Linked DNA regions of Homo sapiens. The protein of the gene in region 3 interacts with the protein of the main gene of each other region in a pairwise test. Each region holds a gene or a part of one and is shown on either strand. Other genes may lie near its edges. The genes, in order: CYTH4, EEF2KMT and KIAA1328.

What was found.
Region 1: the proteins of KIAA1328 (region 3) and CYTH4 interact in binary tests that used the Homo sapiens proteins (3 or more experiments, as listed by UniProt).
Region 2: the proteins of KIAA1328 (region 3) and EEF2KMT interact in binary tests that used the Homo sapiens proteins (3 or more experiments, as listed by UniProt).

Annotation. Positions count from the first base shown.
Region 1 is NC_000022.11:37,291,013-37,301,246, reverse strand, and holds part of CYTH4 (cytohesin-4), read right to left. Parts: intron 8,646-10,234; exon of another isoform or gene 8,627-8,645; coding exon 8,544-8,626; intron 6,588-8,543; coding exon 6,523-6,587; intron 5,249-6,522; coding exon 5,182-5,248; intron 3,684-5,181; coding exon 3,565-3,683; intron 2,022-3,564; coding exon 1,941-2,021; intron 341-1,940; coding exon 228-340; intron 1-227. UniProt on the Homo sapiens protein: Promotes guanine-nucleotide exchange on ARF1 and ARF5. Promotes the activation of ARF factors through replacement of GDP with GTP.
Region 2 is NC_000016.10:5,087,796-5,098,029, forward strand, and holds the start of EEF2KMT (protein-lysine N-methyltransferase EEF2KMT), read right to left. Parts: upstream 10,001-10,234; 5' UTR 9,945-10,000; coding exon 9,849-9,944; intron 9,559-9,848; exon of another isoform or gene 9,485-9,558; intron 7,720-9,484; coding exon 7,657-7,719; intron 5,770-7,656; coding exon 5,689-5,769; intron 4,101-5,688; coding exon 3,999-4,100; intron 2,771-3,998; coding exon 2,637-2,770; intron 2,555-2,636; coding exon 2,289-2,554; intron 1,462-2,288; coding exon 1,312-1,461; intron 1-1,311. UniProt on the Homo sapiens protein: Catalyzes the trimethylation of eukaryotic elongation factor 2 (EEF2) on 'Lys-525'.
Region 3 is NC_000018.10:37,216,065-37,226,298, reverse strand, and holds the end of KIAA1328 (protein hinderin), read right to left. Parts: intron 4,283-10,234; coding exon 4,072-4,282; 3' UTR 965-4,071; downstream 1-964. UniProt on the Homo sapiens protein: Competes with SMC1 for binding to SMC3. May affect the availability of SMC3 to engage in the formation of multimeric protein complexes.

The DNA.
Region 1 (10,234 bases), on a different chromosome or scaffold from region 3:
ATCCTGTGCCATCGTCTCCTGACTGCTCTCCTAAGAACTGTGTCTCAAGGCAGCTCTGTCAGACAAGCACCCAGCAGCAATGAAGTCAGTGCTCAGTGAGGGCTCATGAAGGGGTCTGGGCTGCCAGGGTCTGGGTACCTGGGGGAAACCTGAGGGGGTCTGTGAAATCTATGCCTGGCAATGCTGAAGGGGTCCCGGAGCCCTGGGTCCCACTCCCCTCCTGGCACCTGTGGACTGGAAGACGCCTGGGTTGCAGAGGCAGTATCGAGTGGCAAAGGCCTCCATCATCCGGTCTATCTTCTGGGCCTCGCCCGGCAGCCGGAAGCTCCACAGGAACTGCCTGGGGGAGAAACGGGGCCACGGGCAGTGGAGTGGGTGGGCCCTCGCGGGCCCCAGACAAGCTGCCCTGCCTCTCCCAGGTTTAGTCTCTGTATCCTGTAAATGGGGGAATCTGCAACTGTCATCTGGGCTGACGGGGAAGTGGGATGGGCACCAGGGAGCCCCAAGCACGCGGGAGGTAGCCAAGAAATGCCTTTTCTTGCAGAATACGGAACTAAGCACACGCCCCGCTCTGCAGGTCTGAATCCCAGCACTGACTGCAGCCCAGTCTGCCTCAGCTGGGAAGGGGGACGGCCTCTGCCTGCCCCGGGGTCTGTGGCTCCCCGCACCTGGCCTTTGGGCCCTGAGATCTGGCTGTGGGACCTAGTTGGGGAAGAGGTGGGGCAGGGGTTTTGCCTTGCTAGGGCTCCCTTTCTTGGAACCTCGACTTCCCTCTAGCTCTGGAAGTTGGTGGTTTCGACAGCTTCAAGCTAAGTTCTCTGAAGGTGAGAACTGGGCCTGTATCTCTCACTTCTCCTCCTGGGCTTCACACAGTCCTGGGCACCTAGCAAAGGCTCAGTAAATAAGTGAATGAATGAATGAATATGTGAATGAATGAATGAAAGAATGAATATGGGAGACTCCCAAGTCACCTACCCCTCTCCCTTAAAGAGCTGGGAGTTAGAGAACACTGGATGGTGGTGGCTTCTTCCTTCTCTGTATTGTGAACTCCTACTCACCCTCCAAAGCCCAGATCAGATGCTCCTTCTCGGAATCTGAGTTTTCAAGCAGCATCAAGACTTACTAAGCACTCACTGTGGACCAGTTTTAAACACTTTCCCATTTAGTCTTCACAACCCTGTGAAGTTGGTACTATTATTATCCCCATTCTACGGATGAGGAAACTGGGGCACAGGAAGGTTTATTTATTTTTTTGTGAGACAGAGCCTCACTCTGTTGCCCAGGCTGGAGTGCAGTGGTGTGATCTTGTCTCACTACAACCTCCACCTCCCAGGTCCAGGTGATTCTCCTGCCTCAGCCTCCCGAGTAGCTGGGATTACAGGCGCCCGCCACCACGCCCGGCTAATTTTTGTATTTTGTGCATGTGTATGGCTTGCTTAAGGTCACACGGGGGTGAGCAGCAGAGCTGGGATTTGAACTGTATAGTCTGGCTCCAGAGTTTGTGCTTCAAACTGATAATTGGACTGCCTCTGCAGTTGTAAAAATGAGTACCAAAAACAGTACCCTAATTAGAAGCTAATAAGTCATAATAATTGGAATACATGCTAAGCAGTCTTATAAAATAAATAAAACATGCACTAATCCAAAAAGTAGGAGAATGACCATAATAAAGTAATAATGATTAGAATGATTAAATATGGGCATGATAGAATTCTAACTAAGAAGGCAGTATTTGCTATTTGCAAGGAACTAGGCCCTTTCCCAGGCGGTCCAGCTCAGCTCTGTGAGGCAGTACTATCATGAAGTCATTCTTGTTCCTTGCCTCCTCTTCTTTGCTCCCAACCCTTTGTTTGTGCTGTCAGCTATGTGGATCGCGACACCCCCAGCCACTGGGGCTGTGCCACCCTTGAGGGCCGGGACCCTGCCCCAGGACTACTCACCTGAGGGCCTGGACGAGGTTGAGGTTGGCGAACTCGTGGCAGTCCACGAAGGCCTGGAGGACCTGCAGGTTGATGGGATCCCTGGGGGAGGAGGCGGAAGGGAGGGTGGGACACACTTGGATACTTGCTGGCACCCACCTCCTGGAGGGGGTTGAGGTGGGGGAGGGAGAGGACAGAGACATCTGTCCTTCTGGGGTCCAGCTGCCATCTGGTGTGTTCACATCTGTCCCACCCATATCACACCCTGAGGGCACACCCTTGTCCTCCCATGCAGGAACACACACCTTCACGGCTCACCAGCGCTGGTCTGGCCTGGGAGGGGAGCCCTGGCTTTGGAGCGGCCTTGCCCTCAGTCCAGGCCTTCCTCATTTCCTGTAACTTCCCACCTGGTGACCTCGCGGAAGCCACTTGACCTTCCCAGCCCCAGCTTCCTCATCTGTACAAGGGAGAGAAGCTGACCTCCCCCATCTCCTCCCTCTCCCCAGCTCCTGAAGCAGGAAGGTGCCCTTCTCACCGTCTGCATCCCCTGCTCACCGCGGGAGGGAGGGGTGTCCTTGGGAGCTGGGGAGAGGGCTGTTGACTCTCTGGTCCAGCTTCACCCCTATCCACTCGCCCACCCCTCAGACCAGTCCTTTGCCCAGAGCGCTCCCACAGATCCCCACCTCCTCGCCCACAATATCCTTCCTCTCTCCTCCCGTCCAGTCTAGATTCTTGAGCCTGTTTCTGACCCCAGGGCCTTTTTACTTGCTACTCCTGGACCGCTCCTCCCCCAGATGTCTGTACTGCTCATGCCCTCACCTCTTTTACGTTTTGGTCAAATGTCACCTTCTCCATGAGACCCTTCCTGTCCACGCTATTCTAAATCACAGCCCCCAACCTATGGTCCCCAGCATGTCTTTCTTTCTTTGTTTTCTTTTCTTTTCTTTTTTTTTTTGAGACGGAGTCTCGTTCTCAATCTGTTGCCCAGGCTGGAGTGCAATGGCGTGATCTTGGCTCACTACAACCTCCGACTCCCAGGCTCAAGCGATTCCCCTGCTTCAGCCTCCTGAGTAACTGGGACTACAGGCACCTGCCACCACATCCGGCTAATTTTTGTATTTTTAGTAGAGACGGGGTTTCACCACGTTGGCTAGGCTGATCTGGAACTCCTGACCTCGCGATCTGCCTGCCTCGGCCTCCCAAAGTGCTGGGATTACAGGCATGAGCCCCGAGCCTGGCCGGTCCCCAGCATTTCTGACTTCCCTTCCCTGCTCGATTTGTATTCCACAGAGCTTATCATTCTCTAACATATTTTACAACTATTGAGACCTGTCTCTCCCACTAGCATGGACTTCCTGAGGACAAGAGTTTTGTCTGTCTTATTCACTGGTGTACACCCAGGGCTTAGGATGGTGCCTGGAACACAGTAGACCCTGAGCAACATTTATTTGTTGAATAAATGACTAAATGAATGAAGGCAGTCAGGCTTTGACTCAGAATCTGGAGGGGATGATCCGTGAGCCCCTCAAGCACTAGGAGTGATGACTTTGCTAACATAATTCATCCTCTCACCTGCACATCCACACACCTGTACACACCTGCACACCTTCATTTCCTGCCTCGCTAAGGCTCCACTCGTTCTTACCTCTCCCCCAGGTAGGTACCAATGGCTGTCTTGTTGAGGCCCTCGCCTTTATACAGGAACCGTGCAATGTCCTGGACGTCAGGGGTCAGCAGCTTGTGCTCAATGAAATACTGGATACCCTGGAGGGGGTACACAGAAGCCGTGAGCAGCTGCTGCATGGAAGCAGGCCTGGGAGGGGGAAGGGAGGAAGGAGCTTCCATGGCCAGAATCCTGGAGCCTGGCATTCTGGTGTTGGCACAGTCTGTTCTGGGAAGTTTTGACCCCTCTTTCATAGGAGCTGCCTTTGGGAGGTGATGAGTTCCCCATCACTGGAGGCATGCAAAGAAAGTCAGCTTTCCTGCCATGAACCAGGTTCATGCCAGGTACTCCCCAGGGTCCCCCTCAGTCTGACATTCTTTGATTATATGCTTCAGTGACTCTAGGAATTTGTGATTCTGAGATTCAATGATTCAGCCATTTCTTTTGTTCCCCTAAAACTCATATTATTTAAAAATAGCGTTTCATTCTTTCACACAAGTAATCTATGTCTATTGTATAAAAGTTAGAAAAACCAGCTCAATCCAAAGGGGAGGAAATTGCCCGGGCCCTACCGCTCGGAGGCAGACAGCTTCCATCGTGGTGACCTTCCTTCCCTTTCTATGTGAAAATGGGCTCAGACCATGCCTGTCACATTTAAATCTGTTTTTCGGATTTGACAATATCACAAGCACCTCTCCTCACCACCAAGGCACTCAGAGTTTGTCATCCTAGTTTTAGGAGTTGGAGGGGTTGGTCTCTGGCTCTCCGTGAAGATTCCTCTGTGTTCCACTGCTGGAAGTTGGGCACAGGCCATGAGGGCCCAGTGACAGGCAGAGGATGCAGAGGACACCCCTGGGTGCTGGGTGGGGTGAGAGTGTGAGCCTGCGGGGGTCTCTGTGGGTAGGAGCAGGAGTCCAAGGGTCTGTAGCCATGAGAGGTGAATGGTTATAACACTTTGGGCCTGTGATGGGGACAGGGAGCCTTCTAAGCCAGAGCGGTAAATTTCCAGGGACCCCAGCTTGGTGCTCTCTGCTGGCCACCTGACCCCACCTCGGTGTGTCTGCCTGCGGTTTCCTTCTGTCTCCGTCCTTTCAGGATGGAAGCCCAGCTGCCACCTGGTGGGGTGAGGCCAGGGGCTTGGGAGTGGTGTGGGGGATCGAGGTAACCCAGCCCTGAGCTGCTGCTCCTACTAGCAGAGGGGTGGGTGGTGGGACCGCAGGACTGGCCCTCCCTGAGCCCAGGGCTGGAAGATGCTTCTGGAGCCTAAGCCCCAGATCCAAGAGCTCCACTGTCCCAAGCCACATTCATGGAGAAGGAAATGGAGGCCCAGAGTGGGGAAGGGACTAGGCCAAGTGCATGGACACCGTGGCCTCCTCCATGCTCCTGGCTCCTCCTGCCCCAAGGCGTGTATGCCTGGGAGTAGACAGGGCGCCCAGCCACAGCTGGCCATGGGGCACTGGACAAGATGCTCAGCTCTGCTGGGCACAGCTTCCTCCTCTGGAAAGGGGTCGTGTCAGCCGAGGGGAGCGAGAGGACACCAGGCAGGTGCTCCCATGCAGCCCCCACACCCTGTGGCCCGGGCCCTCCACAGCCACCTACCTTGGCGGGGTCCATGTTGAACTTCTTGCGCCCAATACACAGCTCCTTCTCCTTCTGGGCCATCCGGCTGTGGACATGAGGACGTCAGCTTGGGCTGCCCCAGGACCCTGAATTACCCTCTCCACTCCCCAAGGACCCTTGCCTCAGCAGGAGCCCATACCCCTCTAGGGCCCTCCAAGTGTGGCCTCCGGGTCCTGCATGGGAACCACCTGGGCGGGAGAGAGCAGTGCAAGGCCTGGCTCCTCCCAGAGCTCTGCAGCTGACTTCTCTGATGGGCCCAGCACGGGCATTTAGCAGCTTGCAGGAACCCGGAGCTGCCGTGTGGGAGAAGGTGGAGGGGCCCTGTGCAAGAAACCGGGGGAGGGGGCGAGGGCTGAGCACGCAGGTGCTGGAGCCAGGCTCCTGGATGCGAATCTGAGCCGGGCTGCTTTGGGCGAGTCACTTCCTCTCTCTGGGCCTCAGGTTCCTCATCTATAAAATGGAGGTGATACCACCACCTGCCTCCCAGCATTGTTGAGAGGTTAAAGCACCTAAAACAGTGAGGCGTAGGTGTGTTATGTTGTCATTGTTGTGGCTGGAACAGGGGAGCTGGAGAAACGGCCACTCGTGTGTGTGCATGCTTGTGTGTGTGTGCATGCTTGTGTGTGTGTGCATGCTTGTGTGTGTGTGCATGCGTGTGTGTGTGTGCATGTGTGTGGTGGGGGAGGGGAGGAGGCTGGACAGGTGGAGACCTAAGGAGTGGCGGGCGCAGGATGGGAAATTGCCAGGACATCGTGTGTCAGAGTCAGTGCACTGGGGCCTTAGGAGACTGTGTAGCAACCAACCTTCTTGTTGCACAGATGGGGAAACTGAGACCCAGAGAGGGACAGGATCTGTCCCAGATCACAAAATAGTGGGAGTTTTCCACAGAGGCGGTGGGCGTGGCTGGCCCGGGGTTAGTGGTGAGTGGGGTGGGGTAGGGCCAGGCTCCTGTCCTCCTGGGGCCCTGGGCTTCCTTGTCCTTGCCCTTGGGGCTGAGCTTCCCTTCTCCCCGCCCATCCCAGGGTGGATGTGGCCAGTGATCGGTCAGGGCTGGACCACAGTGGGTCAGGAGAGACTTTGGGTTGGGGGAGGGGAGGACGCAGTGTCTCTCAAGAGAGGGTCAGCCTGGGAGCAGGGACCAGACCCGGGATGGGGCCGGGGCCACCCTGTTCCGGTCTCGTTGCTGCCTCCTTCTCCCTGGCCAATCCCTGATTTCACCAGGTCCAGGGGGCTGGGAGTGGCCCCTGCTCATTCAAGGTGTATGACATCCTTGGGAAGCAACCATGGCAGTTTCTGGGGGTCCCCACCCAAGCCCCTCACCTCTCCTCCGCACTCTCGAAGCAGTCGATTTGGGCAAACACATCTGCAATCTCATCCTTCAGCTTCTGTGGGGTGGCAGGGGCAGGACAGGGAGAGTCAGGGGTGGAGGCCAGAACCCCGGGGGTTTGAGACCACAAGGACCACTCCTACCCCTGGGCACGACTCTCAAACCTGGCCCCTCTCCCTGACCTCTGTCCTGAGTCCCCAGTCTGAGGGACCCTCCATGGACAGGTCCCCTCCCTGGATGTCTCATAATTTCTAAGTCGCATGCTAAACTATCACCTCTGTCTGCACCCATGCCTCCACTTGTCTTGGGGAGTGGGATTCCCCAAGCCCCCATCCCTTGCCCATCCTTTTTCCAACCTTCCCATCTCTCCTCTCTGCAGCCATGAAGTCTCCTGCACTCTAGCCGAGCCTACCCGACAAGCCGGCCTCCCCACTGCCCACCTCCCCCAGCCCACCTCCACCCTGCCCGCCTCCACCCTGCCCACCTCCACCCTGCCTGCACCCCCCGCCCGCCTCCACCCTGCCCACCTCCCCCAGCCCACCTCCACCCTGCCCGCCTCCACCCTGCCTGCCTCTCCCGGCTGGTGTCTTTCTGGAGCACTGCATGGAGCCTGCCCTTCCCCTGCTCAAACCCCTCCCATGGCTCCCTACTGCTTCCTCAGCTTCTCTCTGGCTTTCCTCCATTTACTATGTTGCTCACCCTTGACTAAGTGCCCGCTATGTGCCTGCCAGGTACTACGGGGACACCACGCACAGGCAGCCTAGGCCCTCTTTCCAGGGACTTTGCAATTCCCCTGGACTTTACAGAAGAGGACACTGAGGCGTAGAGAGATGACACGACACGCCCGCAGTCTGACTCCAAACCTGTGCTTCCCCCAACTCGACCCCAAGCCCATTTCATCTTGACCCTGCAGGAGGCACCCAGTGGCAGAGGGGACCCCCTAACACCTCCCCCTGCCAACCACCAGCACCCCCTGAAGGACACCAGCATGAGCCTCTGGCCGGCACCCCCATTAGGCACCCAGCCCCTTTCTCCCCAGGATCTGCAGGGTGCTGGTGAGGGGCTGGTTCCAGGGACTTGTCCTGAGACTCAGGGCCAGCATGGGACTTGGGAGCCTGTGTCTGAGCCGTGTCAGCTCCTGTTCATGCCATCTTGGCAGAGCCACTGAGTGGTTGCCCCACAAATACAATGGGGATTCATTTGCAAGTATTAACTGAGCACCTATTAATGCTGCACCCAGCGGGCTGGGGATGCAGTGGTGGGCAAGACAGACCTCGGCTCTGTGTTCATGGAGGGCACAGTCTGGTGGGGCTGGGATCATGGGTGGTCATAGGGTAATTGGAATGACTATGCAGAACACCATCAGAGCAAGGTAGAGAAATCCTGGCATATAGTAGGTGCTCAATGAAACAGCAGCTGAGTGAATAATTTTGTGCCTTCATTTCCTCACTGAAATCCTAAGTTTATGTGCATGGGAGTGGGGGTGGGCACAGCCACTGCAGCCCAGGCAGAGGGGACTGCGAGTGCAAAGGCCCAGGGGCAGTGCTGAGCAAGGCACGTTCCAGGAACAGAACCCAGCCTGTCTCAGAAGCTGCTGACCCAGATGAGCTGACGTCTGAGTCTGATTGGTGAAGTGGTAAGTGCAGGGCACATACTGGGAGTTATCTTGACCAGGTGGTCTACACTCTGCAGGGGTGAGACCTGGCTGAAGCTTCACCACAGGGGTCAGAGCCTGCCCTGTGACAAAGCAAGTAAAGGCCAGGATGAGGATCGGCACACGGTGGGCGCCTAATTGGATCGCTGCCTCCCTCCCCGGCTCTCCCAGTTCTCCCTGGGTCTCGGGGTGTCTGCAGTCTTGTTGTTCTCCCTGCTCCTGGGGCTGGGGCCGAGGCTGATATGAGCCAGAGTTGGCCACACTGTCTGTTGACCAGGCTGGGTCAGGAGCTGGTGGGGTGCGTACAAGCGTGCAGGAGTGTGGGCATGGACACGTGTGTGGACACGAGTGTGCACTCACCTGGATGTCCTCCAGGAGCTGCTTTCGGTGCCACTTGATCCTCTGTAACTCTTCCGTCTCCCCGCTGCTCAGCTCCGCGGGCTCTACAGAGAGACAACCGGCCTTCCCCATCACTTGGCTCCAGCCACACCCACTTGCCCTCACTTCTGCAGGGCCCCCTTCCCTCCGGAAACCCAGGACTTGCCCTATTCACAGAGGCCCACCTCCTCCAGGAAGCCTCCCCTGACTGCCCTGTCTAAAGCAGCCCCTGCTCCCTCCTCTCCTGCCCTGCTTCCTGTTTCTCCCACCCCCCTGGATAGACACCCCCAAAAGGATCCTGTTTCCTTGCATCTTTTCTGTCCCTCCCGCTAGACTCTCGGCTCCATGAGAGTTCAGTTGTTCTACTCTTTTGCTCACTACTGTGTCCCCAGCACCTAGAAAGAGTCTGACATGTCATAAGCACTCAGTTAAACACTCGCTGAAGGCACGCATTCCTTCCCCGGAACTTGAATCTCCTCCTCCACTGGCTCATGGGCTCATTATTTATTCACTTATTTATTTGAACAACCAAGAAGTGGTATACCATTTTCCTCACATCCCATTGGCCAGAATGTAGTCACGTGGCCACACCTAGCTGCAAGGGAGGCTGGGAAATGAGCCTGTAGCAGGGTGGTCCTGATGTCCTTACTGTGTAAAATGGGGAGGCTGGATTTGGGGGATATTTTATAGTCCCTGCCCCTGGATACTGGGGCTCAGAGAGGTGAGGTGACTCAACCCACAGGGAAAAGGTCACTGAGCCAGGATGGGACCTTGAATTGGGCTGACTCCAAAGCCTGTGCTCTTTCATCTCCACTTGGAAATGAATTAAATGAAATAAGATTTGTGTGTGCGGCATTCTATGCAAGGTGCTGTGATGATGCCCACAACTAGGTCAGCTGTCCTATCTTCATGCTTCATGGTGGCTTCTGTTTCATCCACAACACTCTCCTTCTCTGAGTAATATGGCCTCCCTATTACTCAGAGAGAAAGTCTTCATCCTGGGCCTGGGGCCTCCACAACCTCTCCAGCCTTGGCAGCCAGACTTATTCCCTGCCATTCCCAAAAAGAGCCTGCCAGTCCAGCCTGCCAGCTCCTTCCTGCTCCAGAGCCATCCAGGACTCAGTCCCACTTCCCCATGTTTGCCCAGGCCGCTCCTGTACTCTGGGATGCCTTCTCCTGTCTGCCTGCCCAAATCCTCGCTGACCTTCAAGTTCCAGCGTCGGGAAGTGCCTGGCCGCATTTCTTAAAGGTTTTACAAGGATAGACATCATTTCCTCCAAAAGAACACAGAGGGAATGTTGAGCGCTCCCTTTCCCTACTTCTCCTTCTCATGATTAAGCAGGCATTGTGGCTGTTGAGATTAAAGCCCCATGCGGAGATGCAGGGCACCAGGCTAGATGGAGCCCAGGTCCCCAGGCAGCGGTGTGGAGAAGACTCATCATGTTCACCTGGCCCACCTATCCATTTGGACTTTTCAATAAGAAATAAATCAGTTTTGAGAATGTTTCGGTTGCTGTTATTCTGAGTCTCTTTAAGCAGCTAAATCTGAGATATACCTAATACAGCATCCTCATCTGTGAAATGTGAACCATAACCCTTGCCTCACAGGGCAGCTGTCAGGAAGGAAAGAGCTACACTTTGTCAAACACCCAGCAAGAATCCAACATATGCTG
Region 2 (10,234 bases), on a different chromosome or scaffold from region 3:
GTCTCAAAAAAAAAAAAAAAAAAAAAGGTGGGTGGGGGCTTATACTATGTGTGCTGCTTGGCACTGTTTTTTTCACTTAAAATATATTGCAGGTTTTTTTTCACGTAAGTATCTGAAGAAAGACTTCCTTTTTTTTTTTTTATTTTTTATTTCTTTGCTTTTTTGAGACAGGGTCTTGCTCTGTTGCCCAGGCTGGAGTGCAGTGGTGAGATCAGGGCTCACTGCAGCCTCCATCTCCTGGGCTCAAGCCATCCTCCCACCTCAGCCTCCTGAGTAGCTGGGACTACAGGCGTGTGCAACCACATCTGGCTAGCTTCTGTATGTTTTGTGAAGATGGGGTCCCACTATGTGGCCCAGGTTGGTCTTGAACACCTGGGGTCAAGTAGTCCTCTTGCCTTAGCCTCCTAAAGTGCTGGGATGACAGGCCTGAGCCCTGCGCCCGGCCAGCCTCCTGTGCGAGGTTGTGGGGGGACTCTGTCGTGGAACCCAGTACGTCTTCGTGTGCTGGCTTGTTTGTTGGCTCTGTAGTTAACGGGCTGCCCCACGTGGACAGGCACTGGGTTGTCTGTGTCTCTGTGTGCAGGCAGAGGCTGCTGCATGTGCATCTGTGCACATGGCTGCCAGGAGGGGCTGTGCTCAGGGGGAGCTGGGGCAAAGGCTGGTGGCACTGGGGGGCTTGGGTGTAGTGTGGAGGCGTGAGAGCCAGGTGGCTGGGGTGCAGTCTGCGGGAGCTCGGGGGTCTCTTGGCCTCCGTGTGTCCTAGTGTCTTTGTTGGTGAGATGGGACAGTGACAGCACACCCTCACAGTTGCTGGGGGCTGACAAATGTCAGGTCTGAGGACAGTTGCTGGCCCACTATGGGGCCAGTTCCCCTTCTCTACAGTCACCCTGCTCGTCTTCCACCGACTGGGTGCTCAGGACAGTGGCGTGGTGGATCCGCCTGTACATCCTGTGCTCCAGCGTCCTGCAGGCCACAGCTGTGTCCAGCCCTGACCCCGACTGCCCCTCCCGCCACCTCCATTTTATAGATGAGGAAACCGAGGCCCAAGGGCTTAGGGAACCCTGCTCTGAAGCACACAGTAGGGCTGCTGGGCTCAGACCCTCCCTCCCTGTGCTGAGCTGCCCTCCTCCTGCCGCAAGCCCCCCACGCCCCAAGCCCACCCTGCTCACTGGCCTCTGCCTGAGTTCCCCCCATGGTGTGGGAGTGTGGGGCAACCTAGCTTTTCCCCGGCACCCAGTTCTTTCACTTCCACTGGCGTCCTGCAGGGACAGCTCAGGGACCATGCAGGCCCGGGTGGGCGTGGAGGCTCACCTAGCTCGGTGGTGAACAGCTGGCACGTCTCTGGGTTGCGGACGGTAAAGGCCACGTAGACCTCAGGAGCCCGCTGGTGCTCCCGGCAGGCAGCCAGCCTCCGCAGGACCCCGACCAGCGACATGATGGCTTCTGGGCAATACAGCACATCTATGGTGAAAGCTTCAGGTTACTGAAAGGGACCAGTGGACAGGTCCAGGTCATGCTGACGTCAGCAGCAGGGCGAGGCCAGAGAGGCAGCGGTCATATGAGACTAGTAGATGCCATTTGACCATTTGGGCCATTAGATGGAAAGGCAATTACTTGGGTGAAAAAGGAGAACCCTTAGTAGAGAAAGCTGCAAAAGACCGAAGCAAAAGAAAAAAATCTCCAGACTCACTGGTGTTCCTTAAAAAACCAGCTCTGGTTCTTGGCCTATCTAGAGGGCTTTGAATGACACAAAGCCTGACCCTGCCATGAACTTCATGTTTCAGGCATCTGCTGATTTGTCTGCTGGCTTGCAGGGGTGGGCTTGTGTCCCTGGCCACCGCTGGACCTGTGGGTTTCAGGGCTGGGACCTAGGACCACAGGCAGAGCTCTGTTCCACCAGAGAGGGGACTGAGTGTGCTGGCAGGGGTGAGGGGTTTTCGGTGGCCCAGCCAAACACCACCTTCTCTCAAGGGCCCTGTCTTCGTCCCAGAAGTGGTTGTTTTCCTCCTGTGGTCTCTGAAGGACACAGGGCATGGCTCTGGGACAGAGCCATGTGGTAACGACTGGAACGGGAGTATGCCTGTCTCCAAAAAGAGGGCTGTGGGTTGAAGGTCACCTTAAGAGGCACCCCTGTCCTGTGATGTCACCCTGGAGGCCCAGAGTAACTCTTCTGGAAGCCCCATCATGTCCATGCCCGACAGCGTCCATTGTTCCCTTTTCCCAGAGCCAAGAGCTGGGTAGAGCTGCAAGGACACCACCTGCACAGGGTGCCCGGGGCTGGGCATTACCTGCTGCAATGACAACATCTGGCTGGAAGGCAGAGAGCTGATGGACCGTCGCGACGTCCCAGTCCAGCTGGGCCACTGTCACCCTGGGGCTGTCTAACTTGGCAGTGATGTCTGCCTCTAATGAGAGGCCATTGAGAAGGACATTCCCTCGGAGCTGCTCAAGGACCCGGCTGTGACAGTCGCTGAAGATGTATGCCCGGGGGCGGCACATCTTGCAGATGGCCAGGCCTGTGAGGCCAGCACCACTGCCAAGCTCTAGGACAGTCCTGGCGGGAGGAAAGGGGACCGTGTCTGCGACTGCACCAGGGTAAGCCTGCCTCGGTGCCCTGCCCTGCGCCCCGAGGTCACCTGTTAGTGAAGACTGCCGGGTTCTCGATGGCCCATTCTGCAAGGTAGAGGGCGGCGTCCCATGTGACCAGGCCTGTGGTACCGTAGGAGATGATGGCCGTGCTCTCGGAGAGTGTGACCGAGCCTCCCGAGGGCTGCACCAAGAGAAGGCGAGAGAGTCAGTCCAGCGATCAGAAGGCAAGTGGCTTAGAAGACAAGTAGCCCCACCACATGGCTGAATAAACCATGACAGGACCAATCGCCACTCAGCAATGAGAAGCAGCTAACTGTTGGCATGCCAACAGCTTTCACGGGCCTCAAGGGTGTCACGCGGTGTGAAAGACACTCATCTCAGGCCACACAGGATTCCATTCATCGAACCTTCCTGAGACAACGGAATTCTGGCGATGGAACACATGTCAGTGGTGGCCAGGGGACAGGTGTGGCTATGAAGGGGTGGCTGCCTTGTGATGATTCAATATGCTGTTTTTCCTTTGTGGTTTTCTGTATCTATGTTTTATCTTATTTTTTTTTGAGCTCTGTCACCCAGGCTGGAGTCAGTGGCACGATCTTGGCTCACTGCAACCTCTGCCTCCTGGGTTCAAGCAATTCTCCTGCCTCAGCCGCCCAGGTAGCTGCGAATACAGGCGTGTGCCACCATGTCCGGCTACTTTTTGTACTTTTTTTTGAGACAGAGATTTGCTCTCGTTGCCCAGGCTGGAGTGCAATAGCATGATCTTGGCTCACTACAACCTCCACCTCCTGGGTTGAAGAGATTCTCCTGCCTCAGCCTCCCTAGTAGCTGGGATTACAGGTGCCCACTACCACACCCCGCTAATTTTTGTATTTTTAGTAAAGATGGAGTTTCACCATGTTGGCCAGGCTGGTCTCAAACTCCTGACCTCAGGTGATCCCCCCGCCTCAGCCTCCCAAAATGCTGGGATTACAGGCATGAGCCACCACGCCCGGCCTGATTTTTGTATTTTTAGTAGAGACAGGGTTTCACCATATTGGCCAGGTTGGTCTCGAACTCCTGACCTCAGATGCAACCACTTCGGCCTCCCAAAGCGCTGGGATTACAGGCGTGAGCCACCACGCCCAGCCCTGTCAAGTATTCTTTGAGGACTGGGCACCAGGTCCTTGTGAAGCAGGTAGTGTGTGTCACCTATTGGATAAGTGCCCAACAACTCCACGAGACATGCTGTTGTTGTTGAAGTGCCTGATTTACAGACAGGGAAACTGAGGCTAAAGAAGGTTGACGGACCTCATGTCTAAGACTGTAGAATGGGTGAGTCAGGATTTGAACCCACACCCACGTTTTCACTTTGTCTGTGCAGGAAGGGTATCTGGGCTGTGAGGGGGAGGAGGGTGCCCTTCTCATACCAGCAAATAGCTCCGGTGGCCCTGGGTGGACTCCTTGGCCATCAGGGTCTCCGCCAGCGCTTCATACAGCTCGTCCAAAGGCTCTGTGTGGACAGCCTCGTGCTGGGGGCAGACAGAGTGAGAGCTTGTTTGCTTTCGTTCTAATCTGTAAAAATGGCCAGATGATTTTCACCAAGTTTGGAGGGGAGATTTGCGATGGAATGGTATAATACCGGCCAGCTGCCATATAAAATATTCACTTCGTTGGGCTTGGTGGTGTGTGCCGAATAGTCCCAGCTACTCTAGAGGCTGACATGGGAGGACTGCTTGAGCCCAGGAGTTCGAGGACAGCCTGGGCAACAGAGACCTTGTCTCTAAAAAAAAAAATTCACTTGGTAGGGAAACCTGGATGGGAGGGCCTTGAACCAGAGGTGTTGGGAGGGTAGGGTTAGGTGTAGTCTAGGGCAGGAGACAAGGATTCCGTGAGAGTTGCCAGGTGACCATGATAGAGAGCCGTGTTTGGATCAAACACAGAGAGGAGGAAAACAAAAGGTGCTTTTAAGTGAGCCCAGGCAGAAGTGTGAGGGCGGCCCATGCTGCAGGCTGTGGCTGTCAGCAGGCCGCTTCTCCACAGCTGGCCCCGTCCTATGATTCACAGGGCAGCAGCAGAGTACACTGGGTGACTGCTGCCCTCTCCTGGTGGCACAGGGCAGACCTGCTGGTGACCACAGATGCATGCTTCTGGGGAGGACTAGGGAGAAAGCAGGTATTGGAGAAGCAGGGGATTGTTTATTTGCTAAAAGTGTGGCTCTTTCACTCAGCAGGTCTGCTACTGCCTACTGAGGAGGCCTCTCGACATCCTCATGTCAAACCCTGCATGTTCGGGCGCATCTTTAAAATCCATCCTAGGCCAGGTGCGGTGGCTCATGCCTGTAATCCCAGCACTTTGGGAGGCCGAGGCAGGCGGATCACCTGAGGTCAGGAGTTCGAGACCAGCCTGGCCAACATGGTGAAACTCTGTCTCTATTAAAAATAAAAAATTAGCCAGGCATGGTGGCGTGTGCCTGTAGTCCCAGCTTCTTAGGAGGCTGGCATGACAGTTGCTTGAACCCAGGAGGCAGAGGTTTCAGGGAGCCGAGATTGTGTCACGGTAATCCAGCCTGGGCAACACAGTGAGACTCTGTCTCAAAAAAATAAATAAATAAGTAAAAAATAAAATTCATCCTTTATCAGTCAGGAAAGAGCTCATTCCAGCAGGATTAATGCAGAGAATTCACCAGAGGAACTAGTTCCGAAGGTATGGCAAGAGCTAAATCTTCCAACAGGGGCCTGTGGGGCAACCCAGAGACGGACAAGAGCAGGAAACTCCAAACCCTTCAGCGGGCAGGACAGAGGGTGCGGGTGAGGGTTCCAGTGCTGTGGGCTGGGCCAGCCTGGTAGGAATGAGAATCCATATGCTAGGAGCTGGGGCCCCAGAGGAGCAGCTGCCGTGGAAACCCCAGGAGGCAGAGTGAGGGAGAGATGCTGGCCTCCCCTTCTTCCCGCCCTGCACTGTCTCCCATGGGTCACATGTGGCTGCAGCCAGTTGCCTGGGGAGGCCCCTGCCATGCTGGGGTTTGCAAAGCAGGCCCAGGGCCTGGGAAGGACGGGGGCTCCAGCACGCAGGTGGCTATGCTGTCCGGCTACTGGGCGGACACTGCCCATAACTGACCTTTTTGATGAGTTCTGAGAGAAAGCACCGGGCATATTTGACGGACGGCGGGTGCTTCACACACACAGGATGCTTCACAGTCTACGGCAAAGGACAGAACGTTGGTTGCTCGAGAGCCCGTCTTAAGTCTCCTATGAGCTTCAAGCCAACACAGCAGAGGGCAAACTCCAGGCTACCCGATCCCTCAGCAAAGATGTAGATGGACACAGCGTTTTGGCCCCATGCATCTGAAGTTTGTCTTAAGATATAAGCTGTTTCCTAAAAATGCTTCCACTGCAGTGGCACAGGCTATGGCAGCATTTCTAACGCCCATTCTGAGCAGGAACACAGGGCATGTGGGCCCAAACCGCCTCCCTCCCAGGGGAGCCAGTGTGAACCAGGGTTTGCAGTAAGGACAGTCGCCAACGGTCTGGCTCTATGGAAGAGGCGGGAAGGCCCACTCGGCAACTGCTCTCTTGGAGTGTGTGTCCCTGGGGACAGGATGGAGGGGACGGGACGCTCCGGGTGACACTCCAGCTAAAGCCCAGAGAAGCCAAATGCAGGATGAGCAAGTTCTAGGCAGTGGGAACAGCTGGTGCAAGCTCTGAGGTGGCCACAGCCTGGCACTTGGAAAGGAGGGCAGAGGGACTGGTGCAGCAGGAGTGGGGACGGCGGGAAAACAGGAGCCTGGAGGGAGAGGGAGGAGACGGTCCACAGTGCCTGCTGGCTGGGAGGGATGCAGATTCTGCCCAAGGGCAGCAAAGTACCCCACGCAATACACAGGCTCTTCAGGCTGGTGCTGGTTTTTCATTTATTCTGACACAGAGTCTCGCCCTGTTGCCCAGGCTGGAGTGCAGTGGCCCGATCTTGGCTCACTGCAGCCTCTGCCTCCTGGGTTCAAGCGATTCTCCTGCCTCAGCCTCCTGAGTAGCTGGGACTATAGGCATGTACCACCACGCCCAGCTAATTTTTGTATTTTTAGTAGAGATGGGTTTTTGCCATGTTGGCTAGGCTGGTCTGGAACTCCTGACCTTAGGTGATCTGTCCACCTCAGCCTCCCAAAGTCCTGGGATTACAGGTGTGAGCCAGTGCACCCAGCCTTGTGCTGGGTTTTAAAGCAGCTCTCCCTACATTTCATGCTTCACCACCTACGAGAGTGAGGCTCAGGGTGAAACTCAGAGCAGGGTGCGAGATAACTTCAGGTATCTCCATGCTCGAAGCCCTGGTATTGCCCCGAAAGTTTTCCCTGCTGTGGCTGTATCTTTTCCACATGGATAATCTTGGTTCACCTCTAGCACAGGAATTCTTCACCGGGGCTCCTAGGATGGGCTGGGTGGGTGGGGGTGGAGGATATCTGCCTCCTGAGTTTGTATGGAAAATGTATTCTTCTGGTGCACTTCTTTCTGCGAGGGAGTCTATTGCTTGGTCTTTTCAGAAGGGCTCATGGCCCTTCGAACGTGAAGACCCAGGATGCAGGGTGATCTGCACTTGGCCCTCAAGGCCAAGGTCAGGCTGTGGCTGGGCCGGGTGGTGATCCTGCCTCTCACCTGCAGGCAGATGCACTTGAGTCCAAACCCCACCCTGGGCAAAGCAAGGGCCCATTTAGGTCTAGAGGAGACAGGAGTGGGCAGGACAGGCCTCATGAAAGCAAAAAAGAAAGTCTCTGAACATCAACCAAATGCTAGAAGCTGTTTTGCACCTGTCATCTCTGTTTTTGCTGTGGATGGTTTAAAAAACATTCCCTAGATTCCCCCCTCTCATTGCAGGTTTTTGTATATTCTGAAGTCTTTGTCTAAGTCTTAAATAGAAAACGAAAGCGCTGGAGCTGTCAGAGGTGCTGACACCCACCTGCAGTGCTGACTCAATGGTTTTGTTTTTTGAACAGGGGTGTTTTTAAAGGGTACAAGCACACCTGCAGTTCTTCTCTCAGGTCTTCTGGAGAGATTCAGGAGGCAGGGTCATGAGTCCCAGGGACTCTGGGATTCTTACCTTGTGCAAAATATCCCGCAGCAGCTCAGAATCTGATGAGTCTCTTAACTTTGCTTCTAAGCTCTGTGTGGAGGGGAAAGAGAGAAATCTCAAGGGCGCATTCACAGGAACATTAAACACGCAATAGAATGTGTTGGCAAAGCGCTGTGTGATCCCTCCCTGGGGACGTGGAGCCAGTTGGAAGTGGAAGCCACAGCGGCTGAAAGCCTGACATTCAGATGTCGCAGGGTGCACCTGGATGAGTCACAGGAAGAAGGCTGACTTTTGGCCACATTAGTCCTGGCTACTTAGCGGCCACCCGGGTCATGGGCCAGCTCCCTGGTTGCACTGCTCAGCCAGGAATTACCAGGGCAGCCATGGCACCAAGGTTTGATGGGCTTGCCATCTAAGTGGAGATGCAGAATGTGCCCATACCAGCCTGAGTTACATTATCCTCTTACAGGGGCCTCAAGCCCAGCAGCGAGCCTTGGCTCCCGAGTTAGGCAGACTGTCTCGGCTGGTATGTGACACAGGGCAAGGCACTTCATTGCTTCAGAGCTCCCTCCATGCCATAAAAGGCCCTACAAGACCTGGTCCTAATCCCTCTCTCTGGCCTGTTCTCCCTCACCCCTGGCCCACCCTGCTCACTCCACTCCAGCCACACTGGCTGCCTTGGTGTTGTTCCTCAACCACAGCTGGCTTGTTTCCACCACAGGGCCTTTGCATATCCTGTTCCCCAAGCCCTTCCCATGGCTGGCTGCTTCACCACTCAGGCCCCAGTTCAAATGCCACCTCTTTGGGGAAGGCTTCCCTGATTCCCTGACTTTGGTGACTCTTCTTCCCAGTTCCCGCATTCACTATTTCCCTGTTTTATTGGCTTTAAAGCCACTGTCATCTGGTCTTTTCTTGTTTATTTATTTGTTTATTCTCTGGCTCTCCCATGCAAGCAGAGCCTCATCTGTCATGGGTACTGCTGATCCATGGTGCCTGGCTCACAGAAGGCATTTATTAAACATTTTGAGACTGAATAAAAACACTAGCTAACACCAACATGTATTTACCATGAGCCAGGCACTGATCCACAGGCTTTTGTACTCAACCCTGACAACAACCCTAAGAGGTAGGTATCATTATATCCCCCATTTTATTAATAAGAAAACAGCACAGAGAGATGCAGTCACTTGCCCAAGGTCACACAGGGCCAGGGGCTGGGCCAGGATTCGAAGCAGACAGGCTGTCTCCTGGGTCTGAACTCTCAACTACTGCACCCTAATCAAACAATCCCTCTGGTCAAATGTGAGTGGTAATAATAGTACCCACCTCGTGGGTGTTGAGGGTGAGCCCAAGTTAGCATTCAGCGTGGGCATGTGAACAATTACAGTCAATACTGAATGGAGACCTATGATGCTTTTATGAAGGTTTCTATTTTGGGTTAAAAATGCACGAATTTCTCTTGACCAGAAATGATCTCTGAGTGCAAATATTTTATGTCAATGGAATAACGCAAATGATTAAGCAACACCCCATAAAATGGGGCAGACCCAGGGAGGAATATATATCCAAACTCACTCATCCCAGTGAGCTCACCGCACATGAATTACAAATGAGGCCGGGTGCATTAAGCCCCTCTGCTGGCAGAAGGGAGGCTGCTGCCTGCCATGGGCCTGTGCTGAGAATGGCAGGTCCCCAGGGCGAGGAGAGGCCACCCCCTTCTCTGTCTCTTCCATCACAGGCGTGACAGCCTCAGAGCATGAGCCGATTCTGTGCAGTGCTCAACATACAGATGAGAATACTGAGGCACGAGGGACAGCCTGTGACCCGGTCACCGCGCTCAGGAGGACGTGGTTACCTGCGGTCCTGACGGCGCTGACTTTTTAGAATGGGCGAGGGCAGCTGTGTCCCAGTGACCAGAACGATTACTGCCTTTAAAAAGTCGTGAAAATGATCGTGAACTGTACCCCACACCGAGCGCGCGTCTGCCCCCCAAGGCTGTGGAGACGCCCCCAGCTTCCCCCGCCAGCTCGCGGGGCAGGAGGGGTGCGAGCGACTCTGGCCAGGCCCCAGGGACGGGGACCGGGTCGCGCGGCCCTGACCGGCGGGAGCCCAGGAACTCACGTGGCGGGAGCGCCAGGGGCTTCAGCACGGAGACCCGTCCCGTCTGCCCCTGGACTCCCGCGAGCCCCGCGGGCCTCTCCGCTCGCCCCGCCGCCCACCTGCCAGGGGAAGGAGCGCAGTGTGCGTGCCGCCAGGAAGCGGCGCTCGAAACTCTGCAGCAAGAGTTCGGTCCCCGCGTTCTCCTCGGGCGCCATGACGTGGGCGGGGCCGCAGCGTTGCCGGCAGACCGGGCGGAAGCCCGGCCTGGACTGAAGAGGGGGCGGGCCCAGGGCAGTGAGCGGGGGCAGAGAGGGGGCGGGGCCCGGGGGTCCCCCGGGGGTCAGGAGGAACGTCGTGGGGGCGGACTCTAGGGCGGGGCCAGGATGATTGTTATGAGGGCGGGGCCTGGGGTGGGGCCAGGATAAGCGTCGTTGGGGCAGGTCCTGGGTAGGGGGCAGGTCCTGGGTAGAGTCCAGGTTGGCGGGTCCTGGGGCGGGGCCAGGAT
Region 3 (10,234 bases):
TTACCAAAAAAAAAAAAATTTAAAAAGGGCTTTCGTTGCTGATTGGCAAGGAGTGCTGAAAAGTCAAGAGTGAAAACTTGACTTTGACTCGTCTCTCTTTAAACTGGGCTTGGGTGAAAGCCAGTTTGTGAGGTGTTAAGGGGCAATGAATCCAAGACTGCTCCCTTTAGAAGTCTTGCTGCAAAAGGAAAGAGAGAACCACAGTGGTGGAAAGAAGGGATGATAAAGTTAGCTGAAAGTCTGGGCTATTCACAGGGTATTTTTTTCAAATTAGGGGGGATCTTACACTTGACTGAAGTCCCTTGATTCCCAGACTGGGTCTCCAGATTCCTAAACACCCAAATGGTGTTACCAGTAGTCCATGAGCAATTTTCATTTTCAGTTTGGGAGCTGTTTGAGTAATGATTCTGTTCCTGCTACCTGTGCCTCTGAGGGGCAGGTGCGAAGTCTCCGTATTCAGGTGCAGGTGCCAGCCTGGGTTGGGGAACAGGGGGCAGGACAGGGTCTCTGTCTGAGTTGAATCCACAGGTGTGATCTCAGAATTGAGCACTTTAGACACTGAAGCCCTCACATACATTCTTCCAGCAACTAAAGGCAACTAGGCAGGGCCATTTTTCTTGTCTTAAAGTGCTGTGATACTTCTTCCTTGCTGAGCAGCTATGGGGGTAGGCACAGAGAAGGGACTTACAGGTGCAGAGAGACTGAATGTTCTGTTCCAACAAGCACAAAATCTAGAGGCGGCTTGGTGTTCACGTGATGTGAGTGAGCAGGAGCCACAGCAGAAAAACCTACTGGGATGTGACAAACCATTTCCTTTCTCTCAGTCAACGACAGGCTCCTGCTGTTTTAACAAGTACTGAGGAAAATAACATTTTGATAACCTGCAGGTCTGCACTTGCTTTCAAGCTATGCCTCACTGATCTGATGAGGGATGTTCAAGGGACAATTCAATATCAAACCCACATGGGGAAAATAGCCATAGAGATGATTTATTAACTTGAAATCTCATACGTACATAAACATTTGCTCATATTCAAAATACACTCTGAGCTGAGGATAAATCGTGAGTTGGAAGGAGTCCGCCACAGCCTCCATCTCTCTTAGCAGACTTCGTCCAGCTCTGCCCCATCAGGCCTCTCCTCTCCCCTGATTCTCTGGCCAGAAGATCTCTATTATGAACTTGGTGCCGGAAGCAGGGACAAGTGAAGAGTAGCTCTGAGGGAGCAGAAAGAGTCCCTCTCTCCCCATGACATTTGGGGTGCTCTAGAAAAGTCCCCATCATGGGGATCAGGTTTGGATAAACACAAGTTTGCCTCCTGGAAAGCGGACTGTTAGCAAAAGCTTTTCTATGATTCACTTTGGTTCTCTGCATCAAGAACTGTGGGCCTTACTTAGGGAGTTCAAAGGACATGCTGTGTCCTTTTCCATTTTGTAAACATTGATTGGTTTTTCTCTCACAGGAGTTGGGCAGCAGGGTGGGCAATGGTGAGGCACTATCCGCAACGCCCTCGGCATGTGTCCAGTCTTGCTTTGGGAAGTGTCTAGAGGCTGGACGAGCAAATCCCAACCAGTCAAGGGTGGGAGACTTGAGACGGAGGAAAGGCAGATTCCTTTGTGCCAGATCCTTTCTCTTGGGATAGTCTGCAACAGCTTTGAGGCTCTGTAACAACCTTTCATTCATATGTATGTATATATTTCAAAGTAAATTTAAATAGATTAAAATGTTAACATGTACTATTCAATTAATAATGAAGACATTAGATTATATACAAATTTACATCCTATTGCCCTTGCACCAACACCAACAAAATGTCCATTAAGTTAGAAAAAGGCAACTGGTGATGAGTTTTGCATGTGAAAAATGTATTGGTTGATATTCTGCTGAAAGCCCATCTCTGCTTTTCCAAATTGGCCATTCATGGAGAGGCAAAGAAGCAATAAAACTCCACTCTGTGGCTGTGACCCCCAAAAAGCCTTTAGTTTAGACTCTGTTTACGATTCTTCTAAAGGCAAACAAGCTTCTTCAAGAAACTGTGATCCTTTTCTTGATCCTCTGGCATCCTCTCACTCCAGAGTTTTAAGGACACTGGAGTCTGGAATGGGTGACTGTGGGCATGGGAGTAGTCTATGGGAGTCAAGTACACTTAAGCTAGTCATGACACAGGGGGCAAGGAAAAGAAAGTTCTGGCAACCTAACTTTAACTGAAAAAATGGCTGAGGGCTCTTAGTTTGCCATCCACCCATTTCTGCCATACCACAGAAAGCTCCACACTCCAAAGGCTTTTTGATATGGGATGAAACCGATTTGGTTACTCTCAGAGGTGAACTTTATAAAGAAATTTTAATCTGTAATGATTTTCCAACTTTTTAAGGGAATGATTATAACTAGTTAGTCTTGACTTTATATTTATTTCAGAAGAAAAATATAATATTAGTGGGCTCCATTCTTTTCTACTCCAAAGAATAAAAAACCCCAAGTGAAAGAAGGCTGGGTGGAGGTGACAGCGCCAGTCTCAGCCTGAAGAGACATGAGCTTTGGATCTATCTGGATAAGGAGGCTGCTCAACAAGGCTTTTCTAGATTGAAATAATCTAGTTTTAATTAAAAGAGTAATTCAGGGAAGCCACGCAGACTCGCTGCATGCAGGCTGCCCTGGGTGGTATGACTTTGTCTACCAACACTGACTAAGTCTTACTCCCAGTTTAGTTGGGGTTGGTAAAAAGGAGAGAAAAAAAGCCACACCCTCCAGATCAAATAAAATTCCCAAGTAATACACATCTGGGAACACACCCTCCCCTTGCTTTCAATGACTGGAGAGTTTTGAACTCTGGCTAAACCAGGATCATCATCCCCATTAGCTTGAGAGGCTACTAGGGACCACTGCAAGCTGAAGGACCCATCTCAAGAGCTCTGTGGGAGAAAAGACAGCAGACAGGATGAGGTCTGCACTGCATAACTTCCATAGGCTTTCTCTGGGTCAAAACGAGGCCAGTGAGAAAAAGTAGGGAGACCCTGCTTGGGTGGTGGAACATACTCTGGCAAGTAGAGATGGTTCTTTGGGGCCACGAGCAGAGCACCTGTGAGGCCTGGTCAGCTTGTATCCTTTAATCCTCGTGGAGGAAAAGGGAGGGCCAGAGGAAGCCCATCAGCTTTGCAGCAGCTTGCATCACTCTCTCTCTAGTGGCATTTTCCGTAGACATAACCATGGAAAGTTCACAGGAGCACGTGTGATGGGGGGTGGGGGGGTGGGGTGAATAAGCTGAACACTTGGGTAAATAAAAATACCTAGGGATTGTTCTTATTCATTCTGGGATATTGGAGGGGTGGTCACCCAAACATTGGTAGAAGAGTGCTTCAGGCTTGTGCCTCCACTGAATTTCCCCAGGACTAATCACTCCCTGATGTGATTTAGTGCTGCTTGCTCCCAAGGATTGGCTGGGTCTCACCCTCCAGCCCATTGAGCTCTTTGGTTATGGGATGGGCAGCTGCCAGGCTGATGGCTACTGAGACTGACTCACAATTGGCTCTCGTGTTGTTTGTGATGGCAGGGGCACCAACTCCAACTTCAGAATTAAAGGACCACTTACAGAAATGTAGTAGTGAGAGAACAGGATGAGAAAGATGAGAGAGTCTGCCTTTCTGAAACTGCTTATGTTTCAAAGGGGTTACTTTTAAATCAGAGGGATTTTTCAGTGGAAAGGTTTTTCTTGTATATAAAAGTGAGTCAGCATTTTCTAGCAGAAGTTTGAGAAGGAAACACTCTTGAAATGAGGCTGAATATGCAATGGTTTCCACCACGCAGAAAGTATCCTATGTTAATTTTCTAATCTGTTTAGCATATAAAAGATACCATCTTCCATTCCTACCCCCTTAGTGTGTTATCGAATGCCTGGTCTGATTGAAAATAACCTGGGTTGTTAGAATGATTTCTATATTCAATACGTAACAGGATGCTAGTGAGACAAGTCCCCGTGAAAGGAGAGACACAATTACTTTGCAATGAAATAATTTAAAATCCTAGATCAGTATGTGAGGAAACCCACAAATTTCCTAAGAAAATTTTGCAATATGTCAAATGAAAAATATATCTTCCAGAATCTGATTCTCCTCCAACTCTTCAGGGGTTCTGTGCATCCCCATCTTCTTCCGGGTTGATTTTAGAGGACTGAGTCGGAAAGTACCATGATTCCAGGCCCCAGCTTCTCTGGAGGGATAGCGCTGAGGTTTGGGCGCAGAGTTTGGGCTCAGAGACTGAACCAAATCCAACAAAGATGTCTCATACCTGTAAGACATATAACCCAGACAGGAAAGGATCAGATTATTAGAAAATGAGAATTCAAGAAGCCCAGCAGAAATGGGCTGTCCAGGGCAAGAATTAGATTACAGATCACATCATGCATAAGATGATGCTTAAGGGAATTTTTGTGAAGGTAAACACCAGAAGGACTTGAAGAACCTAGGCCCTGCTGCCTGTACATAAGCTCTTCTCTTTTGCTGACCCCTAACATTCCTTTATAACTTATGAAGAGAGATTGTAGAGTGGGAAGAGTAATCATGATAACAGTAATGATATTAACAGTGACATTTACTGCAGGCTTACTGTCAGGCACTGTTCCTAACACTACAAATATTTAACCTTCCTATAATCCTCTAATGAACCCTAGGAAGTAGGTACTATACTACTCTCATCTCCATTATAAACATGCGGAAATTAAAGCTCAGGGAAGTAACTCATCTAACAGAAAGCAATTACACAGCAGAGTCTAGAATTGAACCCAGGTGGTTTGTCTCCAGCACTCTCATCCAGGACACTAAAGCTGTCTGTCGAAATCTTCACAGACAGACACGCTTGGTTCAAATCTCTGTTCTACCATTTGCAAGCTGTGTAATATTGGGGAAGTTATTCAGTGTCTCAGTTCAGTCTTTTCATGTGTAAGAGGCTAGCAAAACTCCAGTTAGGATTAAATGAATTCATTGATATAAATGAATACATAATAGGCACTGAATAAATGTTAGTTCCTTCCTGTTAACCCCCTTCCACTTTTTCTAGAAGTTTGGGAAAAGATTCTAAATCTATAAAGACATCCCTCCAAAGAAAGACTGCCTTGTGTCCAGCATTCTTTTCAGAAAGGGTAAGTGCAGAGCAGCTTAGAGGTAAAAAAACATTCTGGGGGCCGGGTGAGGTGGTTCATGCCTGTAATCCCAGCACTTTGGGAGGCCGAGGTGGGTGGATCACTTGAGGTCAGGAGTTCAAGACCAGCCTGGACAACATGGTGAAACTCTGTCTCTACTAAAAATACAAAAATTAGGCGGGCATGGTGGCATGTGCCTGTAGCCCCAGCTACTCAGGAGGCTGAGGCAGGAGAATCGCTTGAACCTGGAAAGTGGAGGCTGCAGTGAGCTGAGATCGTGCCACTGCACTCCAGCCTGGGCAATAGAGCAAACAAACAAACAAAAAACCAACCAACCAACCAACCAAACAAACAAAAACAGTTTGGAGTACCACATAGGGCCCTAAGGGGATAGCTGGGGCCAGAACCTAGCTCCAAATTAATGGTGGTGACAATGGCAGAAGCAGCAGTGGTGAGAGGCTGGGTTGTCTGTTTCCCAAGCCCATCCCTGTGGCAAAAATGTCATCTTTCTGGCCTGAGAACTGGGATAGGAACTGCTAGCATTAAGTATAAATGCCAGTAAATTATTAGAAAATAAAAACATACACGTGGACATTACAATGAAGCATATCAGAGATATATTAGAAGCCTTCAAAGAGTTTAGAATCTCTGGTTTTAAAAACTGCTACAACACTGGAAAGCGAACATCCACAGGTTTGGAAATAAAAATTAAAGATTGTTGCATTTGATAGGAAAAAACCCACTATTCTCATATGCAATTTCTAATGAACCAATTATTAATGAGGAATACAATTTTTAAATTTAATTTTTCTTTGTAACTGAAGATGCTGCTATAGAAAGCATAAACAAGCACTGTGAATTATAGACAAATCATTAAGTGATTTTTGGTTTCTTATATGATCTTTATATGTTACAGAACATGCTAGAGAAAACATTAAAATGACATCATAGAGATTTGTATTTAAAATTAAATTCCAACATGTATGAAACTAATGTGTATGAAGAGTTAAATCTTTTTAGAAAATCTGATCCCCAAGAATAATCACCTCTATATAAACTAAAATTCATATTTGGAAATACTTTATTAGAAATCTATGCAAATGTTGGCACAGCCTACAAAATACTCTTAGCAGCTCCACTGTCAGTTGCATCAACAGAAAGATCCTCCTCAAAATTAAAAATTAGAAAAAATTGGGGGATACAGTTCCAAGATGGCTGAATAGGAACAGCACCAGTCTGCAGCTCCCAGTGTGATCGACAAAGAAGATGGGTGATTTCTGCATTTCCAGCTGAGGTACCTGGTTCATCTCATTGGGACTGGATGGACAGTGGGTGCAGCCCACAGAGGGCAAGCCGAAGCAAGGTGGGGCATCACCTCACCCAGGAAGCGCAAGGGGTCGGGGGACTTCCCTTTCCTAGCCAAGGGAAGCCATGACAGGCAGTACCTGGAAAATAGGGACACTGCCACCCAAACACTGCGCTTTTCCAACAGTCTTAGCAAATGGCACACCAGAAGATTATAAACCACACCTGGCTCAGTAGGTCCCATGCCCACGGAGGCTTGCTCACTGTTAGTGCAGCAGTCTGAGATCGACCCGCGAGACAGCAGCCTGGCAGGGGTAGGGGCATCTGCCATTGCTGAGGCTTCAGTAGGTAAACAAAGCAGCCAGGAGGCTCAAACTGGGTGGAGCCCACCGCAGGTCAACGAGGCCTGCCTGCCTCTGTAGACTCCACCTCTGGGGGAAGGGCAGAGCTGAACAGAAGGCAGCAGGAACTTCTGCAGACTTAAACATCCCTGACAGCTCTGAAGAGAGCAGTGGTTTTCCCAGCATGGTGTTTGACCTCTGAGAACGGACAGACTGCCTCAAGTGGGTCCCTGACCCCTGTGTAGCCTAACTGGGAGACACCTCCCAGTAGGGGCCGACTGACACCTCATACAGCTGGGTGCCCCTTGAGATGAAGCTTCCAGAGGAAGGATCAGGCAGCAATATTGCAGTTCTGCAATATTTGCGGTTCTGCAGCCATCTGCTGGTGACACCCAGGCAAACAGGGTCTGGAGTGGACCTCCAGCAAACTCTAACAGACCTGCAGCTGAGACACCTGACTGTTAGAAGGAAAACTAACAAACAGAAAGGAATAGCATCAACATCAACAAAAAGGACATCAACACCAAAACCCCATCTGTAGGTCACCATCATCAGAGATCAAAGGTAGATAAAACCACAAAGATGGGGAGAAACCAGAGCAGAAAAGCTGACAATTCTAAAAACCAGAGTGCCTCTTCTCCAAAGGATCACAGCTCCTCGCCAGCAATGGAACAAAGCTGGACAGAGAATAACTTTGACAAGTTGACAGAAGTAGGCTTCAGAAGGTTGGAAATAACAAAATTCTCCAAGCTAAAGGAGGATGTATGAACCCATCTCAAGGAAGCTAAAAACCTTGAAAAAAGATTAGACGAATGGCTAACTAGAATAAACAGTGTAGAGAAGACCTTAAATGACCTGATGGAGCTGAAAACCATGGCAGGAGAACTACGTGACGCATGCATAAGCTTCAGAAGCTGATTCCATCGAGTGGAAGAAAGGGTATCAGTGACTGAAGATCAAATGAATGTGTAACGCCTAACCTTGTTTTTTACTCTAGCTCACTACTTTAAATTTTCCTTTTTTTGTCTCCTTAATTGCCAGCCATGTTTCCCATATGAATACACTCTCCCTGGCTGGGAAAGCCGGACAAACTCCATTTGACCTCTTGATTTACAAGACATTAAGGGCTCCTTACCCAACCCCCTTCCTTAAGGAGTTAACCTGTGTAAGCAGATCCTCAGCATTTCAAAGGAGCCCAATTAACTGGTAAGATACTGGAGCAAACAATGTATGAAGTTCCCAGGGTTTTGCTCAAAGAGATAACAACACAAAGCCTTGAGTTCCTGTCTGGCATAGCATTTATATCTAACTATAATGAAGGATTTAGAGCCTTGCACCTGGTACCCTTGCTCTTTTTGTAACCATTTGTCTTTTAAATTGTTCATTTCTCTGTAACCATTTGCTTCTTTTGATTCTTGCATGTTTTTACTTCTGTAGAGTTATTGCATTTAAGTCCCCCTCCCCTTCCTAAACCTAGGTATAAAAGTTAAGCCCCTTCATCGGGGCCAAGAGAATTTTGAGCATTAGCCATCTCTTTGGCCGCCGGCTTAAATAAAGGACTCTTAATTTGTCTCAAAGTGTGGCATTTTCTCTAACTCCTGTGGCTATAACAAATGAAATGAAGCAAGAAGTTTAGAGAAAAAAGAGTAAAAAGAAACGAACAAAGCCTCCAAGAAATATGAGACTATGTGAAAAGACCAAATCTACGTTTGATTGGTGTACCTGAAAGTGACAGGGAGAATGGAACCAAGCTGGAAAACACTCTTCAGGATATTATGCAGGTGAATTTCCCCAATCTAGCAAGGCAGGCCAACATTCAAATTCAGGAAATACAGAGAACACCACAAAGATACTCCTTGAGAAGAGCAACCCCAAGACACATAATTGTCAGATTCACCAAGGTTGAAATGAAGCAAAAAATGTTAAGGGCAGCCAGAGAGAAAGGTCAGGTTACCCACAAAGGGAAGCCCATTGGACTAACAGCTGATCTCTCGGCAGAAACTCTACAAGCCAGAAGAGAGTGGGGGCCAATATTCAACATTCTTAAAGAAAAGAATTTTCAACCCAGAATTTCATATCCAGCCAAACTAAGCTTCATTAGTAAAGGCAAAATAAAATCCTTTATAGATAAGCAAATGCTGAGAGATTTTGTCACCACCAGGCCTGCCTTACAAGAGCTCCTGAAGGAAGCACTAAACATGGAAAGGAACAACCGGTACCAGCCACCGCAAAAACATGCCAAATTGTAAAGACCATCGATGCTAGGAGGAAACTGCATCAACTACGAGCAAAATAACCAGCTAACATCATAATGACAGGATTGAATTCACACATAACAATATTAACCTTAAATGTAAATGGGCTAAATGCCCCAATTAAAAGACACAGACTGGCAAATTGGATAAAGAATCAAGACCCATCAGTGTGCTGTATTCAGGAGACTCATCTCACGTGCAGAGACACACACAGGCTCAAAATAAAGGGATGGAGGAAGATCTACCAAGCAAATGGAAAGCAAAAAAAAAACAAACAAAAAAAAAACAAAAAAAAAGCAGGGGTTGCAATCCTAGTCTCTGATAAAACAGACTTTAAACCAACAAAGACAAAAAAAAAAAAAAAAAGAGACAAAGAAGGCAATCAAAGAATGGTAAAGGGATCAATTCAACAGGAAGAGCTAACTATCCTAAATATATATGCACCCAATACAGGAGCACCCAGATTCATAAAGCAAGTCCTCAGAGAGTACAAGGAGACATAGACTCCCACAAAATAATAATGGGAGATTTTAACACCCCACTGTCAATATTAGATAGATCAACGAGACAGCAGGTTAACAAGGATATCCAGGACTTTAACTCAGCTATGCACCAAGCGGACCTAACAGATGTCTACATAACTCTCCACCCCAAATCAACAGAATATACACTCTTCTCAGCACCGCATCACATTTATTCCAAAACTGACCACATAGTTAGAAGTAAAGCACTCCTCAGCAAATGTAAAAGAGCAGAAATCACAACCACGGTGCAATCAAATTCAAACTCAGGGTTAAGAAACTCACTCAAAACTGCACAGCTACATGGAAACTGAACAACCTGCTCCTGAATGACTACTGAGTAAATAACAAAATGAAGGCAGAAAGAAAGATGTTCTTTGAAACCAACGAGAACAAAGACATGACGTACCAGAATATCTGGGACATATTTAAAGCAGTGTGTAGAGGGAAATTTATAGCACTAACTGCCCACAAGAGAAAGCAGGAAAGATCTAAAATCAACACCCTAACATCACAATTAAAAGAACTAGAAAAGCAAGAGCAAACAAATTCAAAACCTAGCAGAAAGCAAGAAACAACTAAGATCAGAGGACAACTGAAGGAGATAGAGACACAAAAAACCTTCAAAAAATCAATGAATCCAGGAGCTGGTTTTTTGAAAAGAAACAAAATTGATAGAC